Homo sapiens: one gene and its partners. The protein of the gene in region 4 purifies or fractionates together with the protein of the main gene of each other region. This does not show direct contact. Each region holds a gene or a part of one and is shown on either strand. Other genes may lie near its edges. The genes, in order: KIF20B, KIF14, SLMAP and CCDC89.

What was found.
Region 1: the proteins of CCDC89 (region 4) and KIF20B purify together in Homo sapiens (co-immunoprecipitation; 3 studies listed by BioGRID and IntAct, with this or other methods). This does not show direct contact.
Region 2: the proteins of CCDC89 (region 4) and KIF14 purify together in Homo sapiens (co-immunoprecipitation; 3 studies listed by BioGRID and IntAct, with this or other methods). This does not show direct contact.
Region 3: the proteins of CCDC89 (region 4) and SLMAP purify together in Homo sapiens (affinity purification with mass spectrometry; 2 studies listed by BioGRID and IntAct, with this or other methods). This does not show direct contact.

The regions. Positions count from the first base shown.
Region 1 is NC_000010.11:89,697,604-89,704,606, forward strand, and holds the start of KIF20B (kinesin-like protein KIF20B), read left to right. Parts: upstream 1-3,986; 5' UTR 3,987-4,077; intron 4,078-7,003. UniProt on the Homo sapiens protein: Plus-end-directed motor enzyme that is required for completion of cytokinesis. Required for proper midbody organization and abscission in polarized cortical stem cells.
Region 2 is NC_000001.11:200,596,733-200,603,771, reverse strand, and holds part of KIF14 (kinesin-like protein KIF14), read left to right. Parts: intron 1-430; coding exon 431-546; intron 547-1,703; coding exon 1,704-1,876; intron 1,877-3,268; coding exon 3,269-3,416; intron 3,417-3,658; coding exon 3,659-3,722; intron 3,723-5,350; coding exon 5,351-5,535; intron 5,536-7,039. UniProt on the Homo sapiens protein: Microtubule motor protein that binds to microtubules with high affinity through each tubulin heterodimer and has an ATPase activity. Plays a role in many processes like cell division, cytokinesis and also in cell proliferation and apoptosis.
Region 3 is NC_000003.12:57,927,281-57,930,514, forward strand, and holds the end of SLMAP (sarcolemmal membrane-associated protein), read left to right. Parts: intron 1-15; coding exon of another isoform or gene 16-108; 3' UTR 109-2,723; downstream 2,724-3,234. UniProt on the Homo sapiens protein: Associates with the striatin-interacting phosphatase and kinase (STRIPAK) core complex, forming the extended (SIKE1:SLMAP)STRIPAK complex.
Region 4 is NC_000011.10:85,683,324-85,690,885, forward strand, and holds CCDC89 (coiled-coil domain-containing protein 89), read right to left. Parts: upstream 2,873-7,562; 5' UTR 2,808-2,872; coding exon 1,683-2,807; 3' UTR 525-1,682; downstream 1-524.

The DNA of each region.
Region 1 (7,003 bases), on a different chromosome or scaffold from region 4:
ATTTTTGGCAATTACTATACCAAATACTATAAATACTATATCTTTAAATGATATGCTCCTCCTAATATTATTTCTTCATGTATCAATTATAGATATCTATTTACTTCCTACAAAGACAGACAATCACTTAGCTCTAGTTACATATATTTTTTCCTGTACTGGTTACCTTTGCACACTGAAATAATATGCTTAAACTTCTACATCCTGTTGTCTCATTTCTTGATTTGCACTTTGTTAAGATTTTGGTATTATAGACATAAGACTCAATCCTTTTCTTTCTTCTCTTCCTACACTCTTCCTTCCATACCTCTGCTGAGCAAAACCTAGGCCTTACAGAATATAATTCTAGCTCTTCTTTAGCATGTCATATAGGGCCCTTTATGATCTAGCCTCTGCCTACTTTTCTTATCTCCTGCCATTATCCACTTCAGCTAATGTTCACAGTCATGCTGAAGTAGGTATTTAGTTTTTGGAATCTTTTGTGAACTCTTGTTCTTTTTATCATTGTCTCACAGCCTTCCATGGCCTGGAATAGCCTCCTCCTGTAATTCACTGGCAAATCCCAATCATTTTCTTCAGCCTACATGCTACATTACGAAATCTTCCCTAGTAGACATCCCTTATTACATCAAAAAGTATTTATTGAGTACTTGTTTTTGTGCAAGGTACGGTTTTAGATGTTGGGGCTATAGAGGACCAAGATAGTAACGAGTTTGCATTCTAATGACTTAACAAACAGATTTAATAAATATTCCTACCACTATGAAACCTACTATGTACCAGGATTATACTAAATAACTTACATATGCTATTTTAATCCTTACAACAATTTTATGAGCCCTATAAGTGGCTGGGCTTATACTCAATCTCAAGTCTGACTTCACAGCCATTACTTTTAAGCTATGCTCACTCTGCTCCCATTATTCCTTGTTCATTTCTATTACAACATTTGTCATGTTTTGAAATACTTTGCATATGGATTTCCCCATATGAACCACAGGAGATAAAAAAATTATTTTCAGGACGGTGTAGAACCAGTGCCATTCTAGATGTATATGAAAGAAGTTAATACATTATATACAATGGGTGCCTAAAGGCATTAGGGATTAATTGTCTCTTGAAATCCCAGGTTGAGAAGGGCTACTTTAGATGAAGGCCTCTTAAGAGCCTCTCAAGGGTAGAGACATCTGTCACTTAGTGGGTGGCTGATAAATTTTTGTTGAACTTGTTATTTAAACCTTTGCAATTAATACATACTCAAAAGTATTATTTTGGGGTTGAAAAGTCAGCTGCTTCAGTCTTGCTTCTAGAGATGGCTTTGCAGGTGGAGTTAAGCACTTAGTATTTTCTTAAGAGAATTCCAGGGGTGTTGGATCCAAACTTTGAGAGGCCAAAGAATGCACAGACTCTGAAGCCGGATCACCCAGATTCAAATTCCAGTCTCTCTGTTTGTTATATAAATTGAAGCAAGTTATTATTTAACATATGCCAGATACTTTTATAAATACTTTACACTACTACCTGATTTAATCTTCAACACTTCTATTTAGTAGATACCTTTACTATTTCCTTACTAGCTCCATGCCTCAGTTTCCTCTTCTATTAATTGGCTGTAACAACAACAAATTGCCTTACAGAGTTACTGTTAGGATTAAATGAGTATAAAGTGCTAAGAATACTACCTGGCATAAAGAAAGTTAGCTATTACTAACAGTAGAGACTGTGGCCAGGGCAGAAAAATCAGCTTGATGTAACTTACCAAATTTTTCATTTTATGTTAATATTCATTTCAAGGGCACAGATGGAATTCTTTGGAATGGGTACTAAATCTTAAGCACTTCCCAATCAAGCTGGCTCTGCATCTCCCTAAGGGAAAAACCCAGCAGCTGGTGCTGAAATGAAAAACGTCGGAAAAAGTACCTTTAAAATCTGGATACTTTTCTGCAACTCCTCTGCCATCTTCCAAGTCCACATTATCATTATCTTTTCCTGGGATCTCTTGCAACAGCCTCCTAACTGGTTCAACAGCATCCTCCCTGGCTGCCTCTAGTTTCTCCAGGAGATTAACCTTTTCAAAAGATAGATGCACATTGGATTGCACCATGCCCATGCTTAAAACTGGTTATCCAGTAAGCATTTCGTAATACTCAAGTCAGTAACTTGGCTAAGGCTTACAGGGTCTGGCCTTGGCCCATGCCTACAGATTCACTCCCCTGACTCCTCCCCATGGTCTCTACCCAGCCACATCAGCTTTCATTCATTGTTCAACAAATATTGATTTGCTTGTCTTGTGTTAGAGAGTCATTGAGGATACATTAGCGACCAAACAAAACACAGTTATTCTACTCACAGAACTTAGATTTTACAGGGTGGGGGAACAACAACAATTGCTAGTTGTAAAAAGTATAAAAATGAAATTGAACCTGCAAATAAAAAAAGAGTGCTCACTTGAGATACAGTAGCCAGGAAAGTCTTCTTTAAGAAGGTACTATTTTAGACGTAACCTAAATGATGAAGGGAAGTGCCACGTGTTGAATGGAGAAGAGAGAATTTAGGTACAGGGAACAACCCATGCAAAGGTTCATACATGCTGGAAAGAAGTTGGTGTTTGAGGTATCCAGAGCAGATCAACTTACTGTACAGTTAGTGGGGAGTGAGGTCGGCTGACACTTGATTGTGCAGGACCTGGGAGGCCATGGTAAAGATCAGAATTCTATTCCTTTTCCCCCCTCCTCTTTTTATTTTATAAAATCTGTTATTTTAGAAAGTTGCAAGACTGGTACGATGTACACCATTATACCCTTCAACTAGATTCACCAATTACTAATATTTTGCCACATTTGCTTTCTCTATTTTTTTGCCATATCTTTTGAAGGTAAGCCGCAAACACTGTGACACTTTGCTGCTAATTACTTTAGCAAGCGCCTTCCAAAAACAAAGGCATTCTTCCACTTAATCACAAATTAATTCTCACATGCAATCAATTTAAAACTGATTCAATATCATCTAATATGTAGTTCATATTTAAATTTCCCCAGTTGTCCACAAATGTCTTTCGAAGTTTTTTTTTTTTTTTAAAAACTATGAACCAGCCAAGATTCACAAATTTCATTTGGTTTCTTTTGACTCTCGACTAAAGTAATTTTCCACTTCGTTTTTTTCTTTTTCCTGTCATGACACTGACATTTTTGAAGAGCCTAGGCCTGTTGTCTTGTAGAATATTCTACATTGTTTTTTTCTGATTGTTTCCTCATGATTAATGTCAAACATTTCTAGCACAAATACTATCGGGTGATATTAGCGATGCTAAGTATCTTCACTTGGTTAAGGTATGTCTAATAAATCTCTTCAGTGTAAAATTCTATTTTCCCTTTATAATAAGAAATGATCTGTAGGGTGATTCTTTGAGATACTAACATCCTCTTCCCTACAACCTTTCAGTTAATTGTTTGTTTTAGCATCTTGCATTCATTAGTTTTAGCATTCATAAGCTTACCTATATCAATTTTTAGACTGGCAGTTGCACAATGGGGATGCAGCGAGGGAAGTGACCCTCCGGATCCCGGGATGCCGAGCCTTTTTCTGCCCCGTAGGGACAGGACTGGGAAGTGGCTAGCCCGCCATTCCTCGGCCCGTCCTTAGGGGAGTCGCAGGACTAAGTGCAGTGGCAGTGGCCTCACCTCGGGCCTTCGCCACATCTTTATTGCCTCAAGGACAGAATTGGAGATCGGTGTCCCAGTCAACAGCGTGGTACTTATGACAGCCGCGAGAAAGCGCACTACTAAAGCCCGGCTAGCAGAGCTGGGAGGCAAACCAGACCGTCAGCACCAGGGCGGCCCACGCCTGCTTCCGCCCATTGGCTGCCCGCGTTTCAAGACCCGCCCCCATATTGGAGAGCTTCTTCCGGTAGCCACTGGAAAGCCCGCAGCGCGAGCCGGCTACGCTCCCTGGCGGAGCTCTGGACGCCCCACCTACTCCCAGCGTTCAGTGCGGTGCCCTGGCCGCCATTGTTTGAATTTGAAAACGGTAACATCGCAGTGCTGCTCGCGGGTCTGGCTAGTCAGGCGAAGTTTGCAGGTGAGGAGGTGACCCGCGGGAATGTGTGGGGAAGGAGGTGGGTGACTGCGCATGTATGGGGCCTAAGGTGGGGAAACGGCTTTGGCAATGTGGACATGTTCCGACAGGGCTCATACCCCAGTGGAGGTTACTGTCAGGAACTGGGTTGCGGAGCGATGCGAACACGGGGTACGCAGCGAGGAATGAGTCATACTAATTCGGTTACGGTTTAAATCTCGCCTCCACTGCTAATTAGCTGAGTGACGCAAGACAATTCATTTAATCTCTCTCTGTACCTTAGTTTTCTTATCAGTTAAAAGGCTGCAATGAAGTGTCTATTTCTTTCGGCTTTTGTGAAGATTAAATGGTAATGTGTAAAGTTATTAGTGCTGGCACACAGTAGGTACTAAATGTTTGCAGTTATTAATATTATTATTGTTGTTGCTTCTGTTGTTGTTGAGGAACAGGCCTGTTTTGCCACACCTAGTTTTCTGAAGCTCTGAGGTGAGCAGTTTGCTCGGCTGGTAGGTAACACGGCCTTTTTGCGGGGGGAGCCCTGTGGTAGCCTCTGTGCACTTATTTCCAGACTACTCCTACTGGTCCTTGGGGCTTGCCCTTCTAGGGTTTTGCAGTGCCAGGCTGAAGAGTTTGTGGCACAGTGACTGCTGTCATTCCCCAGTTTAGAAGGCTTTCTCCATCTCGATTCGCTCGCTGGTTCAGTGATGCATGTCTGGCACAGTTCTCTTATATTTCTTGCTAAACTACTAGTTTACAGAAGTTCACGCCTTATGGGTTAGGTAGTGTAACAGTGTATTTATCTTACATGTCCAAGACTCCAGATTTTAAATTGTAAAAATAACATAAAATACTCATCGATTAGTTGTGAAGACTTTTTTTGAGGCTTTGTGTTGTAGACCACATTCAGAAACCTCATTCAGCAACAGATTCTGCTATTTTTCACCAAAGTCTCCAATTGTGGATTCTTATTGGAGAGAGGGTAAATATGCAGTTTTCCAGTCAGAGCAGCCTTTTGAAATGAAAAATGAGGTCTTGGAGCCTGCTGTCACGAAAGATAATATTACAGACTAGGACCGACTTTTTTTTTTTTTTTTGGAATAGTATTTTCTTTATAACCATTATTTTAAGTCATTAGGTAGTCTTTATCCCTGCATAAGTCGCTGAATTTGTTATAGGGGATACAGAGTGGTATAAGGCAAGGTTCTTGCCATCAAGAAGTTTCCAGTTTAGTTGGGAAGGCCACGTATAAGTAGAAGTCATCTAAAATCGCAAGAAGTTACAGTAAGTCTGAACACTTTTAGAAATGCTAGGAAGTAGTTTGTTCATTGAAAAATGAGCATATGAACAAATACTTTATTATAACTGCTTTTAGTACATAGGAATATTCTTTTTAATTCAGCAATTTAAAAGATTTATCAACACTTTTCTTTAAACCAAAAATTATTATTTGAAGCCACAGGTGTTTTTTAGTTTTCTGGGCATTTCCATGAACTCTGTGTTATGAAATGTCAGGCCGGTACTTTAACGTTTTGCAGATGCTCCCCCCTCTGCACCCCCTTACCCATGATCTAGATCAGTGCTTTCCTTAGTCTTTTTGCAATTTAGGGGAAAAAAGTCAACTATGTTCTTGTGATACGTTTAGGAATTTCAGCCTGATCAAGGAAAAAGATTGACAACAAGATGGCAGGAATAAACAAGGATTTTGACAGGATTGTAGGCAAAGGAAATCCGTCTCAGTTTGGGACCTTTTCTAGACCAGGGTGAGGGGCCACCATCTAGAGGGGAAAGAGGGCAAGGGGAATGGGGAGTCGGGGAGGAAAGAATCATAGAGGGGCTTACATGCCTAAATGATGTTGCACAGTGGAGAGTCTCCGGATCATAGAAACTCTCAAGGGCAGCAGTGGCTTGGGGGTCTTGATAATCCCGGGTTTTATGTGTCTGGCAAATGTTGGGTGCAGTTTCATGGGGCATTCAAACCTGGCAGGCTCTAAATGGCTAAAAATATGCTTATTTTGGGCCATTTTGAAAGTAAATGGATGCTTCAGAATTTGACTTTGGCGCCCCAGCAGGCTTTTCCCTTTTTTTTTTTTTTTTTTGACGCAGTCTTGCTCTGTGTTCAGGCTGGAGCGCAGTGGCGCAGTCTCGGCTCACTGCAGCCTCTGCCTCCTGGGTTCAAGCGATTCTCCTACCTCAGCCTCCTTAGTAGCTGGGACTACAGGCGCATGCCACCACACCCGGCTAATTTTTGTATTTTTAGTAGAGTCGGGGTTTCACCATGTTGGCCAGGAGGGTCTCGATCTCCTGACCTCGTGATCCACCCACCTCGGCCTCCCAAAGTGCTGGGATTACAGGTGTGAGCCACTGCGCCCGGCCGTAGGCTTTTTAATTTTTATTTTAAACATTCATGGTCCTTGATCCAGTGGGCTTTTGAGCTAAGATCCCTACCAGCTGTGAAGAAGTTTACACTGTAGAGCTATTATGCAAGGGCCATCTTTGGTTCATTTTATATAATACCTGTGGGTGATGGTCGTTACTACTTTCTTGAGCTAGGAACCTTAGTTTGGGAGTCACTGATCTGTATATTTTTTAATCTTGTCAAAAAACAGCACAGAGTCCTCCTCCTCTCTCTGGTATTGTACATCTAGTAGATTCTCAGTAAATATTAGAATGTTAGTATTTTTTAGTTAAGGTTATCCTTAAGTTTACCTTTTAGTTTAGTGATTTGATGTTTAATTCAATGGTAATAGTTTACTGATGCATTATTCCTATTTAACTTAAAACCTGTGATGTGTCAGGTACTGTTTTGAATGTGTTTACATATATTATTTTACTTTTTACTTGAATTTGAAATTGAAAACAATTTTTCAGATAACTGAGTTTTGTTTTGTTTTTTTTTTTTGACGGAATCTCACTCTGTCACCCAGGCTTG
Region 2 (7,039 bases), on a different chromosome or scaffold from region 4:
AAACTGAATACACTTAACCTCCCCAAATATATCTTTATCTGCAGTTTATAGACTGCATTGCTGTGGTTGAAAAAGAGATACGTACTTTTTGGTTATGATTAATTTTTAAAGAAAATACGTTTGAGTCATAAGAAAGTTGGTAGTTTATAGAAAAAAGTATTTATAGACAGGCATTGTGGCATGTGTCTGTAGTCCCAGCTACTTGGTTCAGGTGGGAGGATTGCTTGAGCCTGGATGGTCGAGGCTACAGTGAGCCATGTTTATGCCACTGCACTCCAGCCTGGGCAACAGAGTGAGACTCTGTCTCAAAAAAAAAGAAAGTAAAAAAGTATTTACTCAGTAATTATATGAGGGGAGAAATATATTTTGTGAAATAAATTTCTTGCTGAGAAGTATTTTAAGTTAAAAATTTTTTTTTTCTTGCATGCAGGAAGGTGTGAGTATTAATAAGTCCTTGCTAACTTTGGGAAAAGTTATATCTGCACTTTCGGAACAAGCAAACCAAAGGAGTGTTTTTATTCCTTATCGTGAATCTGTTCTTACATGGCAAGTATCTTTTGAAGTATAAAGAATTGTATAAAATATAGTGAATACTATGGGGAAAAGAATGATAGACTGACTTCATTAACTTTGGGATGGAGAAAGGTGGTAAGCATTATGAATTCTAGAGCCAAACTACCTGGATTTGAATCTCAGCTCAGCATCTTATAAGCTCTGTGACTTTGGGCAAATTACTTAATATTCTAGCCCGTTTCCTCATCTGTAAAATAGGAATAAAATCAATACCTTTTAGGGGTAAGTGAGAATTAGATTATTAGTGTACAATTCTTAATACATAATATGTACTATATGAGTGTAAATAACTGTTCTTGTACTTAACTATTATTTGTGGCTGATGTTTGAACATATATGGTACTACCAAACATATTGCTAGTTGTATAAAGAGAAGTTGAATAATTTTGTTTGCTTACTACACAGTGACTAATACATGGGTGCTCAATAAATGTTTTCATTAGTGAATGTATATTTAATTTTCAATATGTTACATTCAGATTACATCTGTATGGATTTAATATTCAGTTGTGATAGGCATTAATATACAGTTACAATAAGGACTGCATCTTTACTTGAGGGTAATGTGTCTTTATAATTGGTTTATTACAATGTGATTGCCACCTTGAAACCTATAAGGGAAAATCTGATTTTTTTCATGTCTTATGAAAGTTAAAAATAGTGACATTCATTCTGCACTAATATATGTTTTAAGTCTCATACTCTTTTTCTCTAAAATAAAGATTTTGCTTTTAGTACAATATAGAATTTTTGTTTCAATGTTCATCATTTTCAACATTTATTGAGCACCTGCTTCAAAAGGTTGTGGTAGCACTGGAAATACAAAGATGACCAAGACACATAGTCCCTTCCCTATGGTAGCTCACAGTCATGAAATACTTGATGATCCACCACATTTTAGAATCTCTGCACAGATTATTGCCTCTTGAAACAATATAAAAAGTGTAAGAGAGAAAAAGTGTTTATGAGATCTAGAAATAGTTACAAATACCAGAAAAGTTTTAAATGGTATTTGAGTAGAGTATAATAATACTGTATTATATACCCTATTAGTTTGTTTTGTGCTTTCTAGATAATTACTGTTATTAAGTTGTTGTAGAAGCAAAGTCTTATGACTTTTTTTCTTGTAGGCTGTTAAAAGAAAGTCTGGGTGGAAATTCAAAAACTGCAATGATTGCTACGATTAGTCCCGCTGCCAGCAACATAGAAGAAACATTAAGCACACTTAGATATGCTAACCAAGCCCGTTTAATAGTCAACATTGCTAAAGTAAATGAAGATATGAACGCTAAGTTAATTAGAGGTGAATATTTTCTCAGAATTTAAAAATTGTTTTGCCACAGTTTAGTCCCAGATATTAGTTGCAGTCTTAAAATATGTAATTTATGAACATCAAAGGTGTTTTTCTATACCTATTTTAATAGATTCTAGTCATCAGCCTATAGTGATGGAGGATGATAGGTAGAAGGACAGATAATAAGTAATAAGGAGAAAAACAATTAGGAAAAGAACATAGAAAACAGAGTGTGAGTAAGGGGGAAACAGTAAGCATTAAACAATAAATTTACACAGTCATAGACGTGTGCAGCAAAATGCCAATAAAACTATTTACTATTTTTCTCTTATGACCTCTCTTCCATTGACGTTTTATGTACTAGCTCTGCTCATGCTTAGTTCATTGATCCAAAGGCAATTGGAGCTCGAGTTTCTAGTATAGGCTGAACTTCATTTATGCTAAATACTGCTTTCTATTTATCTCTAGGTAATCATCAATTTAGGATAGACTTTAATGCCTGCAAGAAATCTTGATTTGTACAGTTTTATCTTTGCTGATGTAGAACTATCATCTTTTCATGCCCCTTTGTCCTCTGGCCCTTTTTAGCAGCAGAAGGTGATAGACACTTCAGATGTATGAGCCAGAGAAGAATCTGATTTGTCTATCCTGGTCCATCCTTTCCCTTTTGGATCCCTTCTGTTTCACAAGTGGGACTGTTTTCATTAAAAATAAGTATTCTGGGCCGGGCATGGTGGCTCATGCCTATAATCCCAGCACTTTGAGAGGCTAACGCAGGCGGACTACTTAAGGTCAGGAGTTCGAGACCAGCCTGGCCAACATGGGGAAACCCTGTCTCTACTAAAAATACAAAAATTAGCCAGACACAGTGGTGGGCACCTGTAATCCTGGCTACTCGGGAAGCTGAGGCAGGAGAATTGCTTGAGCCCAGGAGGCGGAGGTTGCAATGAGCCGAGATCGTACCACTGCACTCTAGACAGTGAGACTCTGTCTAAATAAATAAATAAATAAATATTCTGAATTCCAGCTTGAAAAATCTTTGATCTTGGCTGTTCTGCCTAGTGAATAGCCATTCTTTTATTTCTTTACTTTTTAAATAAACTTTCACTTTAACAATTACCCTTTTGCCTCTCAAAAGTGTTCCACTTTGGTCAGTACATTATACAGCTTTCCTACTTATGAACAGGGAAAGTTCATTAATATGGGAGCATATTTCAGGTTAAGACTAAGTAAAGATTTATAGGTTATATAAAGTAGAGCTGATTTCTCCAATATTCTATTTTATTTAGTAATACTGTATTTAAAACTTCAAATGAAATAGAAGATTGGAGGATTATGCTTACTGTGGAAATTGTTATATATTAAATGTTATTATTAATGCATCTTTGTATAAATCTTCAGAATTGAAGGCAGAAATTGCAAAGCTAAAAGCTGCTCAGAGAAACAGTCGGAATATTGACCCTGAACGATACAGGCTCTGTCGGCAAGAAATAACATCCTTAAGAATGAAACTGCATCAACAGGAGAGAGACATGGCAGAAATGCAAAGGTAGAGTACAGTCAGTACTCTAAATGTTAAGTGTGTTGCTCTGGAATCATAGGAATGGCAGGGACCTCAAGAGGATACTGAGTATTTTTCCGACCTTCCTTATGAATAGAGCAGCCCACTCCCAGATTATCATATTTTAAATATTACTAGGTAGTTGCCTAATTTTCATTGATTGTCTCTTGACTCTCAATCTTATACATCTGGATGTTTTTAACTCTGTTATTTTCTTTGTCTTTGGAAAGAGTGTGGAAAGAAAAGTTTGAACAAGCTGAAAAAAGAAAACTTCAAGAAACAAAAGAGTTACAGGTATTATTTCAACTTTCTAAACTGATTAGAAAATAAAAGAAATATGCCAAGAAATAAATATTGCCAATATGCCAATGCATGTAAATTTAATGTTTCAAATACTTACTATATACTGACTCTGTACAAAGCAATACCGTAAGGAAAATTAATATAAAGAAATGTTAAGATCAAGACTGGTTGCTTAGAGCCAGCCCATAAACTAGTTGGAAAGTTAAAGTATGAATAAACCATCTTGTTATATTTACTTTGGTTCTACAAATATATATTAAATGTCTATGCTTTTCAGGAACAGGGGAAGCCAAGGTGATTAAACACAGTTTCATCCCTCAGAGAGCTTGTGATCCAGAGAGAGATTTACAAAACGTAAATAGAAGACTGAAATGCAATGTGATTTCAGTAGATTGAGCCATAAGCAATTGCCATTTTTGTAGGTAAAGCATGGTTGAACACTGGCAGTTTCATATGGTTGAACCTAATGTAATGAAAAGTATTTCAAGTGATTGGTAGTGGGGGAGTACTATAAGAATTCAGGAGAAGAAGGGAAAATTCCTTGCGCATGGCCAATCCAATCTCATAAAAGAGGTGGCATTTGAGATGGGCTTTGAAGTTTGGGTAAGATTTTAATAGGAAGAGAAAAGGAAGAGCACATTCTTGGAAGAGAAAATTCTCTGAAAGTAAAGGTAGAAAAGTTTGAGTTGTCTTTAGAAAGGGTACGTAGATCAGTTTTACTGGAAGCAGTTTATATGAGATCATAAGGAGATACAATTGGAAAGATATGTTATGATTAGTTTATGAAGGACTTGATTTCCAGGCCAAGGAAATTAAGTTTTATCCTGTAGGAAGTGAGAAGCTGTTAAAAAGTGACCAGGGAATTTACATTTTGAGAGCACCCTTTCGAGAGAATTAACCTGGCATAGGATATAAGATGGATTGAAAACAGAAGCTGTTGACGGTGATCAAGAGGCTGCTTCAGTAGTTTTGGTGTGAGTTGACAGGGGCCTGTGGTGAAGGCAATGAAGATGCAACAAAACAAACTGATCTATTCTAAAGACGGTCAGTCAATAAGAAGACACAATTTGGTGATGATAGATTGATGTATGAGTAGACTGAGGATGGTGAAGGACAAAGAAGGTAGGGAGGTCACAAAGGAGAGATTCTAAGGAAGGAGGAGAGAGTCTAAAAAACCTTTATGGCCGGGCACGGTGGCTCACGCCTGTAATTCCAGCACTTTGGGAGGCTGAGGCGGGTGGATCACCTGAGGTCAGGAGTTCGAGACCAGCCTGATCAACATGACGAAACCCTATCTCTACTAAAAATACAAAAATTAGCCGGGCGTGGTGGCATGCGCCTGTAGTCTCAGCTACTTGGGAGGCTGAAGCAGGAGAATCGTTTGAACCCAGGAGGCAGAGGTTGCAGTGAGCCGAGATCGTGCCACTGCACTCCAGCCTGGGTGACACAGCGAGACTCTGTCTCAAAAAAATAAAAATAAAAAAATAAATAAATAACCTTTAATTTAGTGAGACTTCATATAGAATTGTTTTAATGTTTAATATAGACCATTTGTTTTAGGTGAATTTAACAATTTCATACTGTGATTAAGATTAATTTCTTTTTCTGACTTCTACCAGAAAGCAGGAATTATGTTTCAAATGGACAATCATTTACCAAACCTTGTTAATCTGAATGAAGATCCACAACTATCTGAGATGCTGCTATATATGATAAAAGAAGGAACAACTACAGTTGGAAAGTATAAACCAAACTCAAGCCATGATATTCAGTTATCTGGGGTGCTGATTGCTGATGATCATTGGTATGTTAATCCTCTAAAAAAAAAGAAAAGGCACCTGTTCTATATCTTGATAACATGTGGTTTCCTTCATATGGCATATTCGTTGATACTGATCGTTTGGTAGAATTCTTCAAACCCATTGTTTAGTCAGGAAAAACATACATTCTGAGTGTGTTATAAGGATGATAGGTCAGTTACTCTCAATATAAAGTACAGTGTAATGCTCTCTCTGTTTTTGTTTTGGCATACTTGATCTGTTGATTGAAGAATAATTTATTTTCTTGCAATTATAATGATGCACATGCAAGTAAACTATCTATCTTACATAACAGAATTTTTGGTTGGATTGACCAATTTAAAAATGTTACTTTATGTGAATTTTGTTCATATGAATGGAATACTTGTATATATTGTTGGAATGATAGCGTATGTAAACTTTTTTGACTCTGCATTGTGTTTCCAAGATTTGTGTACATTGGTTCCTGTTTTATTTTCACTGCTATGAAGTATTCCATTGTATGAGTTTATCTCTTATAAAGTTTAGGAAGTGCTTTTAAATTGTATGTCTGAGAGTAGAGATACTAGGTTGTAGAATATGTGCATATTCAACTTTAGTAGCTAATTTCAAATTATTTTCCAAAATGAATTTTTACTCCCATTGGCCTTGAGAATACCTGTTACTCCACATCGTTGCCAATACTTAGTACTGTCAGACTTTATGCCAATCTGATGAACACTAAATAGTATATCATTATGGATTCATTTTACATTTCTTTGATTAATAATAAGGTTGAACATCTTTTCATGTGTTGATTGGCCATTTTTGTTTACTATTGTAACTTGCCTCTTCATATCTTTTGTTGATTTTTCAACTGATTTGCTTATTTCTTAATAATTTGTAGGAGTTGCCAATCTTTCGTGAGCTTTTTGGTATAAATATCTTTTTTTCTAACGTGTAACATCTTTTTACTCTCTCTGGTGCCTTTGATTGATTGAAGTTCTTAATTTTATTGTAGTACCTGGCATCAGTCTTTTCCTTTATGATTGTCAGTTTTTATGTCTTAAAGAAAGAATGTTCTGGCTGGGCGTGGTGGCTTATGCCTGTAATCCTAGCACAGGTGTGTGGGCTCAGGAGTTTGAGTCCAGCCTGGGCAACATGGTGAAACCCTGTCTCTACTAAAAATACAAAAAATTTTCTGGGCGTGGTGGTACCTGCCTGTAATCCCAGCTACTCAGGAGGCTGAGGCATGAGAATCGCTTGAACCTAGGAGGTGGATGTTGCAGTGTGCCGAGATCATCATGCCACTGTACTTCAGCCTGAGTGACAGAGCGAGACTATGTCTCAAAAAAAAAAAAAAAAAAAAAAAAAGAGAGAGAGAGAGATAGAGTGTTCTGGCCAGGTGCGGTGGCTCACGCCTATAATCCTAACAGTTTGGGAGGCTGAGGCGGCAGATTACTTGAGACCAGGAGTTCAACATCAGCCTGGCCAACATGGTGAAACCTCATCTCTACTGAAAATACAAAA
Region 3 (3,234 bases), on a different chromosome or scaffold from region 4:
TTTCTTTCCACACAGAAACCCTGGCCCTGGATGCCCATGTTGGCTGCCCTGGTTGCAGTAACAGCCATCGTGCTGTACGTGCCAGGTCTGGCCAGAGCTTCTCCATGAGAGCGTTCCTTGAGTCCGTACACCGTCCTCCCTCTAGAAGCTGGCATCACACTCATGCTGGGGACAAACAGAACCATTTTCTTCCTCTTTACCTCTTAAAACAGCAGAAGTACAAGAATACAGCTGTAGGGTCATTGCTTTAAATTATATAAAATGTATCTGTCTATAAAGAAGATATAAAATTGTGACTTTATTCTACTGTAAGCAATAATTTGCTTGCAATTTTTCATGTAATTTTTAAATTAGTATGTTAAGATTCTGAATATTATGGTGGCCTAAAGTAGGCTTCTTGGTACACCAGATTATTTATAACATTAAATTTATGAGTATTTTACTCTGAATTCTGATCACCAGATAATTCATTTTTCTGATTTGATAACTACCCAAACCAAACAACCAATACATACATGGGAAGAGAGGCCCTGTGTGCTCAGTGCCTATCAGTTTGAAATATATACACATATATATATTTTTTACATATTTACGCCATTTTTACTTGTTATGAAACCACTGAGCTATTGGGAACAAGACTTAGAGACAACTATTTGCGTGGATTTTTTTTTTTTTAAGGAAAAATACGTTTGGAAAATAAACTGTTATGGTGATAATTTGGGGAATATGTGCACGCTTGTTCAGCCTTAATGTGACTTGAAGATGTGGAGGACATCAACTTTGAAAAACTTTCCATGAGAGTGTATTTTCTTGAGCAAACTGAAGTATTTCTGGGAGCAAAAACATAGTAATTACACAATTTCAGTGCAGTCAACCAAAATGTTGAGTCAATTGGAATGTAATTTATTAAACCATGTATTTAAAGAGATATTTTTCTTTAAAAGCCAAGTTACTTTCTCATATACAGCATTTTAGGAAGCATGATTTTTTTTTTCTATCATCTATTCCTCCAAGCATGTTTAATTGAAGAAAGTATTAATATCTCTTTAGATAAGCTTGTATTGACCTAATTTGGTTTATGATGTGTCAGAGCTAATTCATGTTCAGGGTGAGCGTTGTACCTACCAACAAATTTCCTGGTTGGGTATGCAAATGGTTATTTTCTTTTTATTGTTGTTAATTGGGACTTTCTGTTAATGAAAAGCACTATTCCCAAGATTAATAGTGTTCTATGCACAATGAAGCACCTAAAAACACTGCTTGATATTATAAATTTAAAACACAAGTGAAAGTTTAGCCATGGTTTTGTGCGGCATCATAGTTATGTCAATAAAGTTTATTTAGGTCATAGAATATCCTAAAGTATCACATAGTTAAATTTTTCAGTCAGTGAAGACCGGGAGGGAATGTCAGTGAATTGGCTTGAATGTTCTGTGGCAATCCACAGGTCTAGCCAAATATTGAAATAGGAGTTTAGGGTATAATTTGCCTTGTGATGTTTGGCAGTCACTGTTTATACTTTAAAGGTTATATTTTAAGCTATTTGAGATTGCTTTTGGGAAGATCACTAGATTTATGGAGGAATTAGTCACAAATGACTTGTAGAAAATACTGTCATATAGTTCATTTCATCATTTTCTGTTGCAGGAAGCCACTCCACCACAGAATGCTAATATGCCAGTGGTACCCAGTACCTCTTGTATATAGGTTATTGCAAATATTGTTCTGAAATGCTTAACTTCAGAATTACATTTTTTAAAGTAAATAATTGTTTTAAATCTATTTTGTAAAGATATAAAGTACAATAGAATTTCTGGAGTACAGATTAAACTATTTGCACTAACACACGTGACGTGCATGATTTAATAAAATAACTTTACTCTCCCTACGCATGTTTGAGTTGAATATCATTGAAGTTCTTAATGCTGACTCTACTATTGGGTTGTTAATAGTCTTCTCTTGACATGACTCTTTATGCAACATAACATACATTTGGTATTCTTCAGGGTTTAAAAGAAAACACTGAGCTGTTTCCTCCAAGTTTTATTAACCTTTTATTTAACTTACTGCTTTATTTTTTTCTCTTTTAATATGGTTATTGTTAAAATGAGAGTCACTTGCTAGACTGGTCTCTTTAAATGTAAGGTCTAGTATCAATATTTACTTCATTCAAGTGGAATAAATGGCTTTTTGTAGTTACTTCCAGTTTTCCTCAAGAATAGAAATAAGTCTGTTCATAAGCAATACCTTCAGTTTTGTTCAGTTCACTTCCACGTTAAATAAAGAATAGGATTATTCACTGGTAATAATAGAGTCATTAAGAAATATTAAGCATTGCAGCTAAAAATTGAACAACCCTGTAATGATACATTTAAGAATTATTCAAAGGTGCTACATGGCAGGGTTAGAGAATAAAAAGAACGTGGTGTTTGAAGCAAAACAGATCTGTATTGGCATCTTGGTTCTACCTTTTATCAGATGTTGTTGCCTTGTGCAAATCACATTTTCTCTGAGTCTCCATTTTCTCATTTATAACATGCGGAGAATAATACTTATATTTGTGGTAGTAGTGTGAACATTAAAAAGATAATGTATGTGAAGTACCATTCGAGTGGTGAATACGTTTTTATGAGAATGTCATACTGAAAAAATATTGCAAATATTAAAGTTTTAGGTAAGCCTAAACTTTAATCTACTTTAATTAAATGAATTGATTGACTCAACCATTCAGAATTTCTGTGTATGAGTGAGATATGTGTGTAACATTATGAATCCTGAGAAAGCATTATCACCTAGCTCTGTTTGTCGCCTTCATAGTTCACTCTTTTGGAAGTAATATGCTTGGTTTGGTGATGAACCAATTGCCCACAATGGTTTTGGAATTCCTGTTGTTATTGCCTTTAGAGCCACTTTGAGTCACATGTGAAAACCATTCACGTTGCCCTATAGTCAGAGGCTTTCAACCAAAACTAGTATTGCCTACTTGATCTCTCACTTTAATCACTACACTTGACCAAAATCTGGTGACTCTTGGCTGCTTCCAGTGACTATCTACTATCAAAAGGATGGGAATCTGCTACCAAAGAGAAAAAACTGCATGCAAATCAACTGAGTTAAAACTGCAGTCTTGGCTGGGTGCAATGGCTCACACCTGTAATCTCAGCACTTTGGGAGGCCGAGGCAGGTGGATCACCTGAGGTCAGGAGTTGGAGACCAGCCTGGCCAACATGGTGA
Region 4 (7,562 bases):
ATAACAATAATAATAATAATAATAATTATTATTATTATTTTTGCCCTTAGACTGTATGGGGGCTCTTCCAGGGCAGTAAAAATGCTTCTTTATGCTTCTTCTTAGTGCCTACCCCAGCACCTGGCACTTGGTCGCCAAAAATTATCTTTCAGTGTGCTGTAGTCATCAAAATCCAGCTCCCCCAGTGACCAACTGGCCTTAAGCAAAATTACCAAAACCAGTCTCCTCTTCCTTAAAATAGAAATGAACACGCTTTCCTTCTTGAATAGTCCTAAGAATTAAATAAAGTAATTCATCCAAATTGCTTCAGCGCAATGATAAATAGTATGGGCTCAATAAAGGATATCCATGATTAACTTAGCTCCTATATTCTGATTCTTGGTAACCTGTAGAAGGAAGTAAATAGTCCTTTGAAGCTAGCAGTGTGGTTTCTATTTTGATGAGAAAAGTTTGTATTTAATAGCATAATCTTAATAGAAGTGTGAAAAAATGGGTGTAAAAAATTACCTGAGGCAAGGTAACACTTGCTTGGAAATGGTTTTACTAAAAAGGCACCAAGTCATATTTTTTAAGTAAATTCATTATGTAACTTGGTAGCCTTCAGCAAAATGGGTGAGAAAAATATTACATTACAATCTATTTTGAGAGGTATTCATAATAATGTTTATATATCAATACCTAATTACAGGAAGATAAGAAAATATAACTACCTTTGAGAACTTTTTTAAGAACTTTACATATATATATATCATGTTTTTATAACTATTCTTACAAAATGTAGGTATTACTACAAAAATGCTGCAAGCATACATACACACGTTCAGCTTAGATTTTTTTAAAAAAGGAAAATCTTAATTACAAAAAATATGCTAATAGAAACAAAACAATTTCTGAGTTACTCTATAGATCACGTCTGCTATGATTTGTTACCCCAAATTGTCTAATTGTCTATTAGCATATCGTGCAATATTAAATTAAGCTACTGATATTTGCATTATTGCACATCTAAATCCTCTTTTTAAAGAGAAAACCAAAAAATGGAATATTATCTAAGCTTGCAGAAAAAATAAAAGTTGTTTTGTATAACTTATTTGAATCATATTGCTCATACAGAATAAAATTGACCTTCTTTGTTAAAGAACTTGATCTCAATCATTTTCCAAGCTAGCGCAAAATAAAATAAAGTCAGACACTTTTTTTTTTCTGCAAAGCATTCATGCTATTATGCTGATACATGTTTGCTTACAATCTCAACTATGGGAGACTATAAGCCTAACTATCTACAGTGGGTAATTGTGCTAATTATTTTTCACAATGGCACATCTCACTGCACTTAGATTGACTTAAATCATAGAAGCTGCTAATTTAAAATCCTAACATAAATGAAGATATCTGAGGTTGAGAATTAATAACTTATGGGTAGGAGAAGATACTACTAGTAAATTTAAGATTTCTAAGGCACAGAAGGAAATCTGGCAAATCTTGTGTATTCTAGGTGTAGAAATGAAAATTAATAATGGCTTTACAATAATAACAACAATATCATAGTAAAGTAGCTTTTCTTTGAGTTGCCTTTTGTGCTTGAAAGTATAATAAATGGGATATCATCTTTACTCTTGCCATAATGCTAAGACGCAAATATTTGAATTCTGAATTGCAGGCCAGAGGAAGCAGAAACTTCCCTATGGAGAGAGATGGCGGAGTTTGCCATTGAGTTCTCTCTCCTTGCTTAAAAGATCCAAGCTGTGCTTTTTGAAGGCTTCAGACTGCAGCCTGAGTTCATCGTAGGCCTTCTGGATCCCATCTACTTTGCGCTGAAGCTCCCTGACTCTCAAGTTGCTGTCCACAGCCACTGCCTCTTGCTCAAACCGCTCCAGCGCATGCTTCCTGTCTTCATTTGCTATCTCCAACTTTTCCTCAAGCTGGCAGATCTCTGCCTGTTTGTTCTGAAGCACTTTGCCCCTTTCAATGGACAGCTGCAGCAACTCCTCTTTCTCTCTAGTGACGGTCTGCAGCCTGGCCTGCAGCTCCTGGCTCAGGCTGCTGTGTGTCTCCTCTGCCTTAGCTATCTGCTCCACAGCCTGCTGGTGCTGCTGCTTGAGGGTCTGCAGCTGGCTGCGCAGCTGTTCTGTCTCCTTGGTGTGGGTGCAGGCCTGCTGGCTCTGTAGCTCCAGCAGCTCCTTCTCGCGCGCCTGTGCCTGGCAGGCATCCTGAGCACACCTCTCCTTCAGCGTTTCTAGCTCCCCAGTGAGGGCCTCACACCGGACTGTGAGCTGTAATACTTTCGCCTCCTCATCCTTCAGAGCCTGGCTGAAGAGGCTGCTATTCTCCAGCCTCAGCTTCTCATTCTCCTCCCTCAGCTTGATGTTCTCACTCTTGTATTCATCCTTGAAGCGGAGCATCAACTCGTGGTTGGCTGCTAGGGTCATAAAGCGTTCCTCTAGTTTCCGACTGTACTCACCCTGGGCCTTGAGCTTCTCAGCCTCCTGCATCATCTTCTCCTCCAGCTCTGCATTGAGCAGCTCTAGGATCTGGCAGCGCTCCAGGGCCTCATCTGACCTCCGCTTCAGGATGCAGATGAGCTGGGACTGCTCTTCAATGCGGGAGCGAAGCATAGCCTTCTCGCTCCTCTCCTCCTCTGACAGTCCCCGGAGGTTTGCCAAGGCTTCCCTCAGACCGTCCAGTTCCTTAAACTCCGTCTCCTCTTCCTGGTTGTTCAGTTTTTCATTTTGCTTCTCTAAGCGTTCTTCAGGGGGCGGGGTGTCCATCCTGGGAGCCTGCTGTTTCTGGAGCATAGGCGCTCTCATCCACTAAGGGCTGACTACAGTCTTTTCCCCTCAGATTTCAAACGCTGCAGGGTGTTGCTAGGGACTCTTGGCACTCCCCAGCAGTTGGTTTTTCCAGTAAGGAGCCCTGTAATTGGTGGACAGGTCTTCAGAATGCTATGAAGTAACAACAGGGGAATCTGGGGGAGTCCAGAGCCAATCTGGTCGGGTTACTTTTGCCTTTCTAACCAATCACAGCTCTCAGTTGTCAACTGTCTCAGTGTCTGGCCTGTACAGCACAGAGATGCCAACCCCACTCAATCTCCAGCCAGCATCAGGGGAGGAAGCCTGACTCCACCTAATTTCTGGTAGTAGTAAACAAATGAAGCAGGCAATGATATATTTATCCTCCCTCTCCCCTCTTCAGTTATCGTTTGAATAAATTACTGTTTGTGGAAACATGGTTGGCTCCTCAAAAAATTTCAGTCTATGAATACAAAGTAGTAGTGGTATTCTGAGAGCCAGGACCCTAAAAGCCTGCATATCTGCACCCGTGATGTTTGGCACAGCTCCCTTTTGGTATTTAAGTATTAAAATAGAAAACACCAGTGAAATTTCTTTTGTTGTTCTTAGCATTGTCCCCACCTGGGCATAAATACTCTTTATTAGATATTTAACACCCCCTGTTTTTACCCATTAGCAAAATAAGGTTACAGAAAGAAGCTTAGTGAACCACACAGATAAACATTAAAACAGAAAAAATAAGATTCAAATGAAGCTTGCCATTATATGCCAAAGTCAACTCCTGATAGATTAGTTAAATGTAAACAGAAACTAGAAGAAAATGAAGGTAAACATCAAATCTCTGGGGCTAGGAAGGATTTTTTTTTTATCTTAAACATTATGTAAGATCAGAAAGGGAAAGCTTACTCAAAAAGTTATGTATAATTTTTTAAATTATGTGACTTCTGAGGTCTCTCCAGCCCCTTCTTCCACTGGATTTTCTTGACATTTTACTCCTCAAACCCAAATATTGAAGCCAAACCCAAATCCACTAACCAGCTCTCTCGCCCTATCTTTAGGTGTTCCTCTACTTGGAATGCCTTTCCTACTTTGTCCCTTGTCACTCTAGTAAAGCTTTTTATTCTTAGTTAAGAATCGTCTCTGAAGCCTATTCCTGGCCCCTACATGTCCAATTGGTCACTCACATCTTTTAGTGCATCCGCTATAGCTATTTGTACTTCTGGTGGAGGATGTGAAAATTTTATTGCAGTCACTGTTTATCTGCCAGCTTCCCTCTGTTAGACTGTAAGATCCTTAAGGGCAGGGACTGTGTCTATTTCATCCTTGATGATTAGACTAGTGCCTGGCACATGGGGGAGATTCAGATAAATGTGTATTAAGTGGATGTTGAAGGTAAAAATCAAATTGAGAAAAATATCCCTAATATGACAGACACTACTTTTTTTTTTTTTTTTTTTTTTTTTTTGAGACAGAGTCTCCCTCCATCGCCCAGGCTGGAGTGCAGTGGTACGATCTCGATTCACTGCAACCTCCGCCTCCCGGGCTCAAGCAATTCTCCTGCCTCAGTCTCCTGAGTAGCTGGGATTACAATTACATACAACCACACCTGGCTAATTTTTGTATTTTTAGTAGAGACGGAGTTTAACCATGTTGGTCAAGCTGGTCTTGAACTCCTGACCTTAAATGATCCACCCGCCTCAGCCTCCCAAAGTGCTGAGATTACAGGCATGAGCCATCGCACCCAGCCCAGACACTACCTTTTTTAAATAAATATTTTATACATATCAACGAAACATTAACATCTAAAAAATAAACAATTAAATTCACAAAAATGGCCAAGAACTGAACGTCTACAGTGATCCAATAAATACAAGTTAAAATTAGACATAATTTCGGCCGGGTGTGGTGGCTCACGCCTGTAATCCCAGCACTTTGGGAGGCCGAGGCAGGCGGATCACGAGGTCAGGACATTGAGACCATCCTGGCTAACACGGTGAAACTCCGTCTCTACCAAAAAAATACAAAAAATTAGCCAGGCGTGGTGGCAGGCGCCTGTAGTCCCAGCTACTCAGGAGGCTGAGGCAGGACAATGGCGTGAACCCGGGAGGCGGAGCTTGCAGTGAGCCGAGATCGCGCCACTGCACTCCAGCCTGGGCAACAAAGCGAGACTCCGTCTCAAAAAAAAAAAAAAAAAAAAAAAGATATAATTTCACGTATCAAATTAGTCAAAAAATTTTCTCTTAAGACAAGCCAGGACTAGAAAGGAGTATTGAAATAGGCACTCTCTTAAACTGTTGGTGAAAGTCAGTTGACAGTAGGTACTGAGAAATTAAGATATTTTTATGGCTTCCGAACTAGTAATTCTTCTGCGGAGATCTTTGCTTAGGAAATAATCTGAAAGAAAACATTTTGCTCAAAACTTTTCATTGTAGTGTGGTTTGTAACAACTAAAAGTTGGAAACCCAAGTTTTCAAAAAAAAAAGGGAATGGTTACAAAAATTATGATATATTCATACAAAAAATATTGTACAGCCACTAGAACTTATTACATTTATAGGTAATTTTTAATAGCATGGAAAAGTCTTATGTTAGAAATACAACTGAAAAAGGCAAAATACAAAACTTAAAATTCAGATGATTTCAATCCTGTGAAAATTAAGGGTAGGGAAAAGAGTTGACTATTCTTGTGGTCACAGTTTCTGGTGATCAGATTTACTATCTCCCAAGTCATGATGATAAGGAAAAACCCTGGGTGTCATTATAGATATGAGATGAATTTTTAAATGCTTCAGATTTCACTGGGAGCGAAACAAATCTGAAAGAAGAGTTTCAGGTTCTTCCCTCACTGTCAAAGATCAAGGTCTCATGTTTCAAATCCTGAATTTCTTGTCTATATATGGAAACCAAGATTGAAGACTGGGGAAATTTCCTAAGCTGAAATTTTAACAACTACATAAACAGTAGGATATTGAAGTTTTGTGAAAGTGAATTCCAAAGACTTTAAAAATGTGAATTAAACTTATTTGTAATTTTCCCACATTTCTCTTGTCCTTTTCCTTAAATTTCAAGCTTCATATGCGTAAATGGAGTTCGTCTAGTTATTTTCAAGGCAAATGACTAGAAAATTAGAATGGTCCTCTTAAATAAAAGGGTCTTACAAACATTGAAAATTTTATTTGTTGATTATATGGTTGTCTGATATCATAAAGTGAATTCACAAAATATATTTCCTGAAAGGAGGAAAAGAATTCAGAAAAATACGGAAAAAAGATACATACACATTTGTTTTTTTACCAGTCAGGGTCTCTGTTGCCCAAGCTGGAGTGCAGTAGTGTCATCATAGCTCACTGCAGTCTTGAATTCCTGGGCTCAAGCAATCTTCCTGCCTCAGCCTCCCAAGCAGCTAGGACTACAGGCATGTACCACCATGTTCAGCTAAATTTTCCACATTTGAAAAAGCTTATATTTCTTTTTTGCAAATATATTTTAATACACATTTCTATTAAATTTATATTTACATTATTTAAAATAACACACATCTATAGATTACTTATCAAGACCAAGAATCTGATAAGATCCTAATCAATATTCATTCATTTATTCAGTAAACATTTGCAAGGTTATTTGCAATGCTAGGTGCTAAGAATATATTAATAAAATAAATACGATCACTGTCCTCAAATAACTTAGTTTAGTAATCACTTTGGTTCCTTTCTGCCGTGGTTGTCTTCTTTGCTCAATCATTTTTTTTCTAGCTCCCCTCCTAAAAGTATCCCATATATTCCCTTCCCAGAGATCCAAGGTGACCAATTCTCTCCCTTGTGGTGATCAATGAGTCGTCTCCACTTATCTTTAAGTCTTTCCATGCCTCCCTCCCTTTTAAAGCTACCATTTACAGAGCTCTTCTAGGTAGTGGGCATTTATTTGTACATCTCTCACTTAATTCTAATGATATTCTTGAAGGGTAGGCATTATTATCCACATTTTATCAATTACAGGTAACAAAGACACCAAGGTTGAGAGAGGTTAAGCAAATTATGCCACCCAGAGAATAAGTGATAGAGCGAGAATTCAAATCTAGATCTTTTTGATACCAAAGCCCATGATCTTAGATCACATTTCATTTGTCCATTTGATCATTCATTCATTCATCTCACATAGACTGAGAAACTATTATATCCAAGAATGAAGTCCCAACTCTCAGGATGATTACAGTTTAGTGATAGACACAGATAAATGGATAACAATAATTCAGTGTGAACACTGCTAAAGTAATCATAGATAAATTAGACATCACTCTTTTCAAAGATACAGTGGTAAACACTGGGTGTTACTGAAGGCACAAAGAAGGGATACAAAACCAGTCTTGGATGGAAGGGGCATATTAGTCAAGATTGTTTTAATAGAAACCCAATTCAATTTAGCTAAGCAAGTGGAAATATATTGGCTCACAGAAAGTGCACAGCGGGAGCTCATAGAGTCAAAGCAGGAGAGGCAGGAACTAGGTAGAACCTCAAGAACCAAAACTGCAGATGCAAAGCCACACACAAGGACTCTTTATTTCTCCATCTATTTCTCATTTCTATTGTAGACAGGGTGGATGTGTGATTTTCTCCAGCCACAGTTTGCACCAAGGACAGGGTAGTTCCACTGAATTTATGTGGGGATGGGAACTGTAATAGTGCTGGTGAGTGGGTATTCAATGGAAAAAAAAGAAAGCAAAAATTTTGAGGCTAGTGGCAAGAGAGTGGTTGACTGGATAGAGGAGTGATA